4 linked regions of the Homo sapiens genome follow. The protein of the gene in region 1 purifies or fractionates together with the protein of each later gene. This does not show direct contact. Each region holds a gene or a part of one and is shown on either strand. Other genes may lie near its edges.

Region 1 (3,065 bases):
CCATTGCACTCCAGCCTGGGTGACAAGAGAGAGACTTCGTCTCAAAAAAAAAAAATTGGCTGGGCGTGGTGGTGGGCACTTATAGTCCCAGCTACTCGGGAGGCTGAAGGAAGAGAATTGCTTGAAGCCAGGAGGCAGAGAGGTTGCAGTGAGCCGAGATTGCAGCACTGCACTCTAGCCTGGGTGACAGAGCGAGACTTCGTCTCAAAAATAAATAAATAAATAAATAAAAATAAAATCTGATATTGATAGTGATTTTTTCTCATAGTTTACTTGCTGACCTTTGTTTTTTTTTTTTATATAATGTTTTTATTTTTACTTTATATAATGATGTATTGTGCATACTCCATACCAGGCATAAAATACCAAGGATTTTATTTGCATATATATAAGATGATATATATATAACAGATACGCTAAATTATATATACATCTATATATAAAATTGTATTCAGTTCTCAAACCACTCTGGCAAGCTGGTAGTATTCCTGTTTTGCTAGTGAGAAAACAGGTTGAATGTGACTTGCGGTGCGTTGATGGATTATAGACATAAGAAGCACATGGACGCTGGTCCGTCATGTCAAAATCCCAGATGGCAGCAAGCTGCTAATATTGACAGGTTCTAGGATTCAGGTTTCCTTTTTGCTGAGGAGCAAATGCTGAATGTTAGTCTTATGCCCTGTGGGTCTGCATATTTAACAGCAGTTATCAGGCCTTGGCTAATTTTGTTTATACAAAATGCTTTCAAACTTCATAGGTAATCTCCCTGCCCGCCCCACCAAACACACACAAGGCCTCATTTCTTTACCAGCGTGTTGTAGGATGGACCGCATCAGCAGTTGCCTCTGCAGCATTTCACCCTGGCTTGTGTGTGGAGGTTGGGAGGGGCCAACCTGTGCTGAGGAGGACTCAGGAGAACTGGGGACACAGCAAAGCCCTTAGGATGGATACTATCTTTCTTATCTTTTGGGTCCCTTTGGCATTTCAATAACAGTATCTGTGTTCTCTGGAGCTTCCTTTAAAGAACCTTAGGATCCATTTCTTCACGTGAGGAGGAATCAGGGTGCTGACCCCTGGACACTTAAAGAACCTTAGGACCCATTTCTTCACATGAGGAGGAATCAGGGTGCTGACCCCTGGGACACTTAAAGAACCTTAGGACCCATTTCTTCACATGAGGAGGAATCAGGGTCTTGACCCCTGGACACTTAACCTTAGGACCCATTTCTTCACATGAGGAGGAATCAGGGTGCTGCCCCCTGGACACTTAAAGAACCTTAGGACCCATTTCTTCACATGAGGAATCAGGGTGCTGCCCCCTGGACACTTAAAGAACCTTAGGACCCATTTCTTCACATGAGGAGGAATCAGGGTGCTGCCCCCTGGACACTTGAAGAACCTTAGGACCCATTTCTTCACATAAGGAGGAATCAGGGTCTTGACCCCTGGACACTTTAAGAACCTTAGGACCCATTTCTTCACACGAGGAATCATGGTGCTGACCCCTGGACATCTGGTGCCCCTGACAGTGCCCCCACAGTAGCAACAATAGCAGATGACAGTCAGTTATTTAGAAATGGGCAGGAGCAGCCCTGGTTTTGGCCATCTGCTTGCTTTGCACCCAGCAGCTACTTGCATGCATCTGAAAGCACCAGAGTGAGGGTGTGTGTGCCTCCCAGGCAGTCTTCCTGAGGCAGCTGTTCTCAACATCCATCCTCCTGGCCCCTGATCTGCAGGAACCTCCCCAACCGCCTGGCTTGTCTAGGCCTGTAGCTGGGAAGGAAGAGACGAAGACACAGGGAGAACACACCGGGACTCCACACCTGTAACCACATTCTGTTTGTTCGCCCTAGGAAAGATTGCTGCCTTTTCAGCAGAAGGGAAATTCCTAGGATTGGCTGTCCCCTGCCAAGCTTGGTGGAGCGTCTGCACCTTGGCTGCGCCGCCTGTGCATTTGCCAGTTTCCTCCCACTGAGAGGATGGAGGTGTCCGCACAGCTTTGGGCCTCGTGAGGGATCTGCCTCCTGAGCAAAGAGCTCTTGATCCCGATTTCATGCACAGCCCTGCAGTAAGGAGCCCAGAAGGAACATGTGTTTCCTGTTAAAACTCCTCTTGTTCTCTTTTCTTACATTATGACGTTTGTTTTCAAGGAGAGGGTTTAAAAATGGGATCCTGTAAGCAGACTTGGGCAGTCTCCTTTTGAAATAGGTTGTCTGTACATGTTCTAATGTTTTGTAGAACACGTGTGCCTGTTTAAGTGTATTGATGTGAATAATATTAAATATCCTAATTATTTAATTCATTGTATTGTTTCTGAGAAGTTGGGAAATTACCATTATACATTTACAACCTAATGACTTTTGTATTTTATTTTTCAAAATAAAAGCTTTCAATGTGAAGCATTCTGGTAGTTACATGTTTTCATTAATGTGATTTCAGAGAAGCACAGACCTTATCAGATGCTGATGTGATAAACCAAAGTTTCCTTGGTTGGCTGTATTGTAGATACTCCCCTGGAGCCATCACCTTTTTTTGGAGGGGGGTGGTGGGTAGAGGCAGGGTCTCGCTACATTCCCCAGCCTGGGCTCAAACGATCCTTCTGCCTCAGCCTCCCAAAGTACTAAAATTACAGGTGTGAGCCACGGTGCTTGGCCTGCATTATCATTTTGTAGTGAAGTTTTCTTTTTATTTCAAGAGAGAACCTATTGCCATCCACTTTGAGAATCCTGTTCTATTTCATGCTTGCAGACTGTATTTAAGGACATGGAAGTTACTATTTCCACTTGTTTTCTAGAAGCCTTTGTTATGAAACCCAGGATGTCCAGATAGTAGTAATAATTCCCATATTGAGTGTGTTCACATATGTGCCAGCCATGAAAAGGGTATATAACATGTTATCCCATCTCTGCCCCAAAACTTGTACCTATCCATTTAGGTCATATCCATATCAGTAACTGCAGTATTTTCTACTGTCACTTGAGCCAGAAACTGAAGAGTCACACTTGATTTCACCCTTTTCCTCCCTCTTTCCATTCGCATCCAAGATCTTTGATCCTACCTTCAAC
Region 2 (3,500 bases), on another chromosome or scaffold:
CAGTTCTTTATGGAATGAGAGAGAAAATTTGTTATTTTCTAACTCCCAACATGTGTAGTATGTTTCTTGAGGGATACTATTCTATTTAATACTTTGGCATCAGACATTCTGAATCTGATGCAGTAGCTAATGGATCACGCTAATTCCAAGATTGAATCAAATATGCTGATGTCATTTTTTTTGATTAGGCCATTTTGTTTTCCATTTGACAAAAGTCATGAATAAAATGCCTTCCTAAATAAAACTGGGTGATTTGAATACCCATGGCAATACTTTTTGTTTTTTTCATTCCTTAATAAATTTCGTCACTTAAATTATTTTAGGGAAAAATCAGGAAAAATATTTTGGCACAAAATTGAAGAATGTGTACTCAAAAGTAAATAGAAGTTGGGTGTTGCTTTAGTTTCATGATATTTTCTTTATTATAGCCACATCATTGTTTAGTTGTCACTCATTTTTTTCTACTATGAGGCAAAGTTATCTATTTCCAGAGTGAATGTGATTGAAGAGTGTCTAAAATAGTAGAAAATATTTTATTATTTTTATACTTAAAGTCAATGATTATAATGAGTTGGCTATATATGTGGTTCTACCTCTTAGAAAATAATCATTGCCCACTTATAAATTATAATGGCATTAAAAAGAAATCTGAATTTCACACATCTATAGTTCCATACTATAAAGTTAAGGTTAAATCAACTGTAACTTACAAGGAGTAGATAGCTGTCATTTAGAGTAAGCAAATATAACAATTTCATACAAATTAGTATAAACAAAAAAAAAAGTTGGCAAGTTTAACAGGTTTAGACAAGTTTATTTCTAAACACATATTTACATAATGCAGTCTCTATATCACTATATTATACATATGATCTGAGTATAGTGGAATATTTACTCTCTCCATCAAAATTGCTAATCCAGTATACATTTATCCTCTGTTTTCTCTGAAAGAAGCATTGTGCTAGACACTATGGTGATACAAAAATAATAATAGAATTCCTGCCCCTAAGCACTGTCTGTCTGGTAGGGAAGACAGATAGATCAAACTATCTATATTTCAAGATATATAATAAAGAATAAAATGTATAATTTAATAAAAATTCAGAAAAATGGAAGCTCATGGGAAGACATTATTAATTCAAATGGGAGAGCCATTTTTTTGCATGTGAATTGACCATGAAGAAATTTAATCCCAGCACTTTGGGAGGCCGAGGCGGGTGGATCGCCTGAGGTCAGGAGTTCAAGACCAGCCTGGCCAACATGGTGAAACCCCATCTCTACTAAAAATACAAAAATTAGCTGATGTTGGTGGTGCACACCTGAAATCCCAGCTACTCGGGAGGCTGATGCAGGAGAATTGCTTGAACCCGGGAGGCAGAGGTTGCAGTGAGCCAAGATTGCACCATTGCACTCCAGCCTGGCAACAGAGCCAAGAGTCTATCTAAACAAAAAAACAAAAAGACAAAAATAAATAAAAAAGAAATAAAGAAATTTAAATATGTGGAAAAATATAGAAAATATAGAGAATGCAGTCTGACAACAGTTGACACATGGAAAAATACATAAAATATTCAAAAGAAAGAAAGCAGTCCAGTAGAGGAATAAATTTTTGGAAAAGTGCTGTAACATGGGAGATAGGAGGAAGCCAGATATTGCACGGTTTTAATTTTGCTGTGCTAAAATTTATTCAGGTAGTTTTATTATTATGCTGATTTTTAGAGCTCCAGCAACTAGCTGTGAGCCCAGGTCAACATAGACTCTCTAGAAGTGTTTTTTAGGTGAATGAGTTGCATGAGATTGAGGTGCTGTTGACCACTCCAGTGAAACTTTCTTTCCAGACAGACACTAATAAACATTCCAGTGTGGAATTCTGGAATGATTTCAATTTAAAGTCATCCGCAGAAAGCTGCTGGTTTCAGTCACAGAAACATATGAGTTTACTGCAGGAAAGAGCAGAAACCAGCAAAGGAGGTTTAGAAATGATTTATAGGAAGAAGAAAATCCCCTGAGTGTAGTTACAGAAGCCACAAAGATGTTGAAAGTTTATGGACATGTGAAACCCCATCTCTACTAACAATACAAAATTAACTGGGCTTGGTGATAGGCGCGTGTAATCCCAGCTACTTGGGAGGCTGAGGCAGGAGAATTCCTTGAAACTGAGAGGCAGAGGTTGCAGTGAGCCGAGATCGTGCCACTGCACTACAGCCTGGATGACAAAGCAAGACTTCATCTCAAAAAAAAAAAAAAGTTTATAGAGTAATTGAGTAATATTTGTATGAGAATTTTATGATTAAACAATATTGAATAATGTGTGTATCATAATTCCCCTTCTTAAAAATTCTCAATACACTTCAGCTTTGAGAAAGTCCAAGCTAAATGACCAGGTTAGCTTATTGTTGCCAAATGAATTTGGCCATGAGAATATTCTCCAATACCTAATACAGTATCAACATCTTCCTGTAAATATCTGAAGTATCTGAGAAACAGTGTTTTGGGAAGTGCTGGCGTAGTCAATTAAGTGCGATACCACAGATGATTTTTGGTTTGCAAGCTAACCAGCATCTGGCATTATCATTTTCATTCTCTCAATGGGACCTTCTGATATTATCTTGGCTTAGCCTGAAATCATCATTTAGGGTACCAAAGTCAAGAAACTTGATTACATTTTTTCATTAAATTCTTTTTTTTTTTTTTTTTTTTTTTTTTGAGACAGAGTTTTGCTCTTGTTGCCCAAGTTGTGGTGCAATGGCGCAATCTCGGCTCACTGCAACCTCCGCTTCCCTGGTTCAAATGATTCTCCTGCCTCAGCCTCCTGAGTAGCTGGGATTACAGGCATGCACCACCACGCCCAGCTAATTTTTGCATTTTTAGTAGAGATGGGGTTTCACCCTGTTAGCCAGGATGGTCTTGATCTGCTGACCTCATGACCCGCCCGCCTTGGTCTCCCAAAGTGCTGGGATTACAGGCATGAGCCGCCATGCCCGGCCTTCATCAAATTCTTTAACATGAGTGACAATAAAGGCTACACAGTGCATTAGCAAATGACATAGAGGATTCCAACATTGCAGTAGAGTTGCTGTGGTGTATAGTGGTTATGTGTAGTCACATACAAAAAGGAATGTCCAATATTCAGCATCTATTATGAACAATTTTCCACAAATTATGTGCTACATTATTACTGCTTTTTAAAAGATGCTTGAATGATCCACAGACTAGTTATTTGCATCACAGTTCCCTCTTCCAAAATACGGATAATATCAAATTAAGAATATATGTGTGTAATATATATATGTTCTAATTTATATATCTATTCATATATATTTTTATTTATAGCCCTTTGAATTTCCCATGATATGTTTAAGGGCTTTAAAAACTAGTAGAATTATCGCTGACTTAAGATAAACAGGAGCCAATATCTGAATTTCTTCACTTTCAGTTTTTCTAAGGCCAAATCATTAGACTATAGGTCTTTCAGTTATCTTCTAATGGATTTCATTGTT
Region 3 (3,500 bases), on another chromosome or scaffold:
TCACACTCCGATGCCCTCTTGGTGGGACTAGGGGCCATTCTGACTTCTCTGAGGGCAATTTGGCAACATGGATGAAAATTCAGAATGTGCATTCCTTCTGGCCTAACAATTCCACTCCTAGGAACTTCTCCTGGGGAGATGCTCAGCCCTGAGAGTCAGATGGCTATTCCTGCAGCATTGCTGACAGTTCAAAAGGGTGGGGATGATAACCTAGGGCCCATCAGGAGAGAATGGGCTCCAGGAGGGCGCTGTAGACACATGGCGCGGCCTCGTGTACATCAGATATCTGTGCATGTATTTAAATATTGTTGTAGGTTTATATGGAAAACCAGCCTTGACTTACTCTTGAGTAGAAGTTCAGGTTTATAGAGTAGCATGGGTATGGTGTGGTCTTATGAATAATATTAATAATATCTGTTGAGTAGTGCTCTGTGCCTGTCAGTCTGTGAAGCACATTTTGTGTGTTATTGCCCTGAGCACCCTGTGATTTAGGTGGTGGTGTTGTGTTTTTTTTTTTTTTTTTTGAAGCGGAGTTTCGCTCTTCTTGCGCAGGCTAGAGTGCAATGGTGCTGTCTCGGCTCACTGCAACCTCCAACTCCCGGGTACAAGCAATTCTCCTGCCTCAGCCTCCCGAGTAGCTGGGGATTACAGGCATGTGCCACCATGCCCAGCTAATTTTTTTTTTTTTTTGTATTTTTAGCAGAGATGGGATTTCACCATGTTGGCCAGGCTGGTCTCGAACTCCCGACCTCAGGTGATCTGCCCGCCGCGGCTTCCCAAAGTGCTGGGACTATAAAGGCGTGAGCCACCGTGCCCGGCTGATATAGGTATTATTATGAGAAAACCGAGGCTTGAGGGAACGTCCGCAACTTACCCATGATCATCGAGCAAGTAAGGGCGGAACTGGAATTCAGACCCAGCTCGCATCCTGACTCTAAGGGCACGTGAGAATGTGCGTGGGTACGCAGTCCTGTGTGCATTTGTGTGCGTACCGAGAGCCTCTGAGACAGGCCTGGAAAGGTGTTCATCAAAAGGGCAGCAGCAACAGTCATGGAGATTAGATTTTGGAGTAATTGGTTATTTTTTTTTATGCATGGTTTTTTTTTTTTGCCTCTTTTTGTTTTATTCACTTAGTTTTATCAATTTTTTGTCTCTTTGACATTATACATACCTCACTTGTATAACCGAAGAAAGTTTTGTTTTTATTTTGAAAACTTAAAAAAAAGATTGCTGGGATTTTTGCATAAGGAATCACAAGATAATTTGCAGACTTCTTAAAAAACAAAGGAGAGCCCGACGCAGTGACTCGCGCCCAGAATCCCAACACCCCGGGAGGCTGAGGAGGCAGCCGGATCACCTGAGGTCAGGAGTTCCAGACCAGCCTGGCCAACATGGTGAAACCCCGTCTCTACTAAAAATACAAAAATTAGCCGGGTGTGGTGGTGTGCACCTGTAGCCCCAGCTACTTGGGAGGCTGAGGCACAAATGAGAATCGCTTGCCACTAGGCAGAGGTTGCAGTGAGCCGAGGTCGTGCCACTGCACTCCAGCCTGGGCGACAGAGCAAGACTCCATCTCAAAAAAAAAAAAAAAAAGAAAGGAGATAAGCCTGGGAGTGATGTGAAGTGAGCTCCGTCCTATGAACGACAGAGCTCTTCCATAGAGCACGGTGCAGGACAGCGGGCCCCTCTCGGGCCTCGGAGGATATGTCCTTCATGTCATGAGCTCTCCCCCTTTCCTCACAGCAGCATTTCTTCACTTTGTTGGAGTCACAGACCCTGTTAAGAATCTGGAGGGAAAAATGCTGAGGATGTTTTCCTCAGGGCAGATATGCATAGACTCACACATTCCATACACAATTTCTTTCTTTTTTTCTTTTTTTTGAGACGGAGTCTCGCTCTGTGCCCAGGCTGGAGTGCAGTGGCATGATCTCGGCTCCCTGCAACCTCCGCCTCCCGGGTTCACACCATTCTCCTGCCTCAGCCTCCGTAGTAGCTGGGACTACAGGCACCTGCCACCATGCCCGGCTCATTTTTTTTGTATTTTTAGTAGAGACGGGGTTTCACCGTGTTAGCCAGGGTGGTCTCGATCTCCTGACCTCGTGATCTGCCCGCCTCGGCCTCCCAAAGTGCTGGGATTACAGGCGTGAGCCACCGCGCCCGGCCTCCATACAATTTCAGAACAATTTCAGAAAGTTCATGGACTGACTACGAGACCTCATCTATGCAGTCTGAGCTAAACGCTCCTACTTCCAGAATCGAAGGTCGCTGGTAGAAGTTAAAATAGTTTAAATGGGTTCTTCAAAAGTAAGCTGGTTTCCCTGCTTCAAAGCAAATGAAAAGGTAGCCCCCTGCTGTTCCACTGTTATCCAGTGAGCTTTGGAGTGTTAAGGATTATGCTTCGGAGTATAAGGGATTAGAAAACGCTGCCGTGAGAATGAGAGGCAATAAACTCAGACTTCAGCTAAGCGACTTCCCAGTCTAGCTCGTTTCTTAGAATGCCTCGCAGGGATGTCTGCAAATGTGTTACCATTTAGGAAAAACAGAAATGGCACAAAACCCAAAAGGTACATGAAAAAGTCAAACAAAGGTATATTTCCTAAAAGAAAATTATATAGGACTGCTTATAGCCTCTTGAGAAATTTGAAAAACCTAGGGTTCAGAGAAAAGGAGGAAAAACAATTCAGTGGTGGGAAACGTCAGTCCTTTAGGAGAAGCTGAAGGAACTGGAGCTGTTTGGTCTCAAGGATCCGTGTGTTATCGCTGAGTGTTGGCCGGAGAGTTTATGGAGCAAGTTTTTGTTTGCACAAAGGCCTAAAAGAGACAGAAAGGGGCATACATTGCTCTTCAACAAAGTTTGCATGAAAATTTCAAGAAACGATGCAGTGCTGAGGACCCCCAGGCACGCGGTGGAGTCGCCTCCTCCAGAGAGTTTTCAAAACAGAGCAGCTTTTAGGCTCTGTAGCCTGAACCCCAGCTGGGGAGCCGAGGTCTCTTCCAGCTCCTTCAGTGCTCTGAGAATTGTCTTCTCGTCCCAGCAACAGGCTTGCCTCGTGGGCTGCAGAGCGGCCAGGCCACCCTTAGAACCATCGTTGGTGTTTTCCAGGCAATCGTGAAGGAACATCCTCCATCAGAAACAGAAGAGAAGAACAAAATCACTGCTGCGATCTTTTATTCCATCAGCTTGACCCAGCAGGGACTCCAAGGGGTGGAGCTGGGAACATTCCTCATAAAGCGAGTCGTCAAGGAGTTGCAGGTAAGCGACACGCAGGGAGCCCCGGTCACGCTTGGCTTCCGTGTGGTCAGGTCAGCGAACCTCGTGGGGTGTCAGGTGCCATGAGGGACACAGATGAAGACAGGAGCTAAAGGGAGGGGCAGGGGGTAGAAAAGGTGCCAGAGACCCCTTGGCAACTCCTAGGAGCCATGAGTCTCCCAGAGAGATGAGAATGATGCTGAGAGAGGCCTCCAACCCAGCTGCCCAGTTGACTGCAAGACGCAGTTGT
Region 4 (3,500 bases), on another chromosome or scaffold:
CCCTTCCCTTTGCCCGTTAGAAGCCTAATCTAAAGCCCATTAGTTTTTATGTAACCAGAACTCTTGAGTCTTTTAAATTTTATGGTGGTTAAATTGATAAAATGAAATTTTTAAATATGAGAGACAATAATTAATATACTTCGAACATAAATAGTGGCCATATATGATTACATATGGATATCAGATAAAAGCAATATGACATAATTTTTAGTTTTTTACAGTGCTTTTACTCATGACTCTAATAAGAGAACTTGTTGAAGAAGTATTTTGCCTAGAGAAGTAATGTCTCCTATCTCATCGTTTACCACATGATAATAACTGTTATTCCCTGGAGGTTATATTGTGCTAGATATATTCTCTCACATCTTCAAACAACTTTATGAGGTTGTATTATTCCTGTTTTATTATGAGGAAGGTGAGAGTAACTTGTTGCAGTTTCACGGCCAATAAGTAACAGAATTAAGCTTCAAACCCAGGGCACTTTAGCACCAAGGCCCATATACTACCCTACCATGCTTTTAATTCAGTAGTTGAATTCCTCAAATTTACCAGTCAACAGAGTTTATGTTGTGGCACTGTCTTCCTCTCAGGTAATAAAGTAAACCTTTTAAGTACTGTAGCTAAGTAAGTGGCTTAATGTATGGCTGGTATGTGATTTTTAGCACTCCCCTGAACCTTGGGTCCCCTCTACTTAATTTGGTAATAAGTAAAACACAGGAATTTTCTCTTTAAATTCATGAACAAGTTCTAGGTCCTAAAGCTACTTACCTCAAGGCATAAGTTGACTCTCAGAGTGAAGCCCTCATTCATTCCTCATTAGATAGGAGATTAGCTCTGTGTCTCTCTAAAGTCTGTGTGAATTTGAGCATAACTGGGATGCAGAAACCCCCATTCTAGAGGATCAGAACTATACACAAGATGTAAAAAGTATGGAGTGTTTGGCTGTAATTTATGGATTCCTCATACTTAGGGAAGAATATAATGTTTCATATGAGAATAAATAGAGATAATGTGTATTTAGCCAAAAGTTTTGGCAGTCTGATAAATTATTCCTGATCAACTAGAATTAGAACTCATTTCTGCAAGGTATAGTATTTAATGTAGTATGTCATGATTTGTCCCTCTCTCCCTTTAAAAAAAAAAAAAAACAAAACAAAACGTTGTCAGGAAGTTAAACTAACATAAATCTGCCAGAAATCTGTTTCTTTGCAAGGCACTGGCTCTGATGTTTAGGAAGTGCAATTAAAATATATTGTGGTTAATGTGTTTTATTTTTTATACAGTATTTCTGCTACTTTTTCTCAATTTAAATGTTTAAAGAGATGATTTGTTTTAGAACTTGTTACTGAAAAAAGCTAAAGAAGTACAAATGACTTAATTGCTTTCATTATTATTTTAGTCTAAGCCAGAAATCCAGTACGCACCACATTTGGAGCAGGAGCCTACAAATTTGAGAGAATCATCTCTAAGCAAAATGTCCTGTAAGTTTTATTTTAAGTAGCTTAGATAAAAACATTAGCAGTCAAATCTGGTTGTAGTAGAGTTGGTCATGTTTGTTTTTACACTGATGGAACATAAACAGATAATTTCTAAAACAGTGGTTCTCAAACTTTCATGTGTATTACAGTTTGGAGAGCTTGTTCAAACACAGATTGCTGGGCCCTACCTCCAGAGTTTCTAATTTACTAGGTCTGGGAGAAGATCTGAGAATTTGTATTTCTCACAAGTTCCAGATTTTGCTGATGCTGCTGGCCTGGGGGCCACACTTTGAAAATCACTATTCTAAAAACATTTAGTTTGCTTCAAAGGATGTTTTGAGCATGAACTAATCAAATATTCTGGTATTTCCCAATAAATTGATCAAATAATGAAAAATGCCAAAAGTGAGAGTCCCCATTCTATTTTTATTTCCATGTTAGAAGTGAATTTTGACTTATAAGAACATAAAACATCAAGCTAAAGCAGAACTCACCTTGTGAAATTTCCTCATACCTTATTTTAGATACTGATTTAATTAGCCTTCTAATTATTTTGGTGGGTGGGAGTGGGTAGATAATGATAGCACATAACATAAGACCATCTTTAACTTTAATTAGATTAGAATAAACCAAATCCAAGCTCACATGTAATTAAGCAGAAAGCATCAATGTCAATAAGAATTTGAAAATAAAACAGGAAACTCATAATGTGATAGAATATTCATTTGGTTTTGATGTGCTAGAGAAACTGGTACACATTATAAAATGTATCAGATGACACAAACAAAAACAATTGGATATCTGTAAAGTGTATATATCTAGAAGTAGTCATGTGAGACTAGCTTTTGGAATATAGGATATAATAAACTCATACTTACTATTTCAGCAGATCTGCAAATGAGAAATTCACAAGCGCACAGGAATTTTCTTGAAGATGGAGAAAGTGATGGCTTTTTAAGATGCCTCTCTCTGTATGTATTCCTCTTTATTATGTGTATAACAGATAAAATCTGGCTTGTATCAGAGAGATATATTACTTTTTATTATTTTAAAATTAGCACCTCAAAAGTAAACCTTTTTACTTGTTCCTTTCCAAAGTTGTACATTAGATATTTTAGTTTGTTTAAAAGGTTGTAGGCATACTACTTGAATAAAACCCAGGCAGGTAGTTTTTTTCACAGTACAAGAGCATTTTTCTTGTTAGAATCTCTTGATTTATGTTGAATGTGCTTCTCCACACATTTAAATTAAGCTTTAATTTAACATATGTCTGAGGCCGGGCACAGTGGCTCATGCCTGTAATCCCAGCACTTTAGGAGGCCAAGGCGGGTGGATCGCCTGAGGTCAGGAGTTCGAGACCAGCCTGGCCAACATGGCGACACCCCATCTCTACTGAAAATACAAAAATTAGCCGGGCGTGGTGGTGCATGCCTGTAATCCCAGCTACTTAGGAGGATGAGGCAGGAGAATCGTTTGAACCTGGAAGGCAGAGGTTGCAGTGAGCTGAGATCACGCCACAGCACTCCAGCCTAGGTAACAGAGTGAGACTCTGTCTCAAAAAATAAAATAAATAAAATAAGTATGTTTGAATGGTTTAGGGATCAGATTTTTGTTTTTGTTTTTATCTGCATGGCCAGATTTGACGCTAGAAGAGCTGGATAAAGACTCTAGATTAAGAAGGGCTTTGTATTCTATACTAAGGAATATCAGCTCTATGCCAAGAGTTTTTAAGGGTAATGGTAAAGTGGGCAAGTGAGAGTAGGGGTACCATATGCCCTCCTAGGAAAAAATATCAAGCCTTATGAGGGTGAGAGGCAGGTTTTATGAAAGTGTGCATGTTTCCTCTTCTCCAAGGAGTTCAGATATGGTCCCTCCCCCACATTTTACTCCTCCCCACCCCCAACAAAAAAAGGAAAAAGAGAAAGATAGTGGGCCATACCACTTATTGACTATCACCTACTCGGTGTCAGATACCAGGTCAAGCATTTCAGTGAGTGGTAAACAAGTTTCTGCTTTATAGTG

What was found. The genes of interacting proteins can lie anywhere in the genome.
Region 2: the proteins of TPST1 (region 1) and TRDN purify together in Homo sapiens (co-immunoprecipitation; one large-scale study listed by IntAct). This does not show direct contact.
Region 3: the proteins of TPST1 (region 1) and MLYCD purify together in Homo sapiens (co-immunoprecipitation; one large-scale study listed by IntAct). This does not show direct contact.
Region 4: the proteins of TPST1 (region 1) and TMEM59 purify together in Homo sapiens (co-immunoprecipitation; one large-scale study listed by IntAct). This does not show direct contact.

Annotation. Positions count from the first base shown.
Region 1 is NC_000007.14:66,358,042-66,361,106, forward strand, and holds the end of TPST1 (protein-tyrosine sulfotransferase 1), read left to right. Parts: intron 1-757; exon of another isoform or gene 758-1,853; 3' UTR 1,854-2,402; downstream 2,403-3,065. UniProt on the Homo sapiens protein: Catalyzes the O-sulfation of tyrosine residues within acidic motifs of polypeptides, using 3'-phosphoadenylyl sulfate (PAPS) as cosubstrate.
Region 2 is NC_000006.12:123,504,451-123,507,950, reverse strand, and holds part of TRDN (triadin), read left to right. Parts: intron 1-3,500. UniProt on the Homo sapiens protein: Contributes to the regulation of lumenal Ca2+ release via the sarcoplasmic reticulum calcium release channels RYR1 and RYR2, a key step in triggering skeletal and heart muscle contraction.
Region 3 is NC_000016.10:83,909,115-83,912,614, forward strand, and holds part of MLYCD (malonyl-CoA decarboxylase, mitochondrial), read left to right. Parts: intron 1-3,103; coding exon 3,104-3,253; intron 3,254-3,500. UniProt on the Homo sapiens protein: Catalyzes the conversion of malonyl-CoA to acetyl-CoA.
Region 4 is NC_000001.11:54,039,705-54,043,204, reverse strand, and holds part of TMEM59 (transmembrane protein 59 isoform 2 precursor), read left to right. Parts: intron 1-1,399; coding exon 1,400-1,481; intron 1,482-2,364; coding exon of another isoform or gene 2,365-2,367; coding exon 2,368-2,449; intron 2,450-3,500.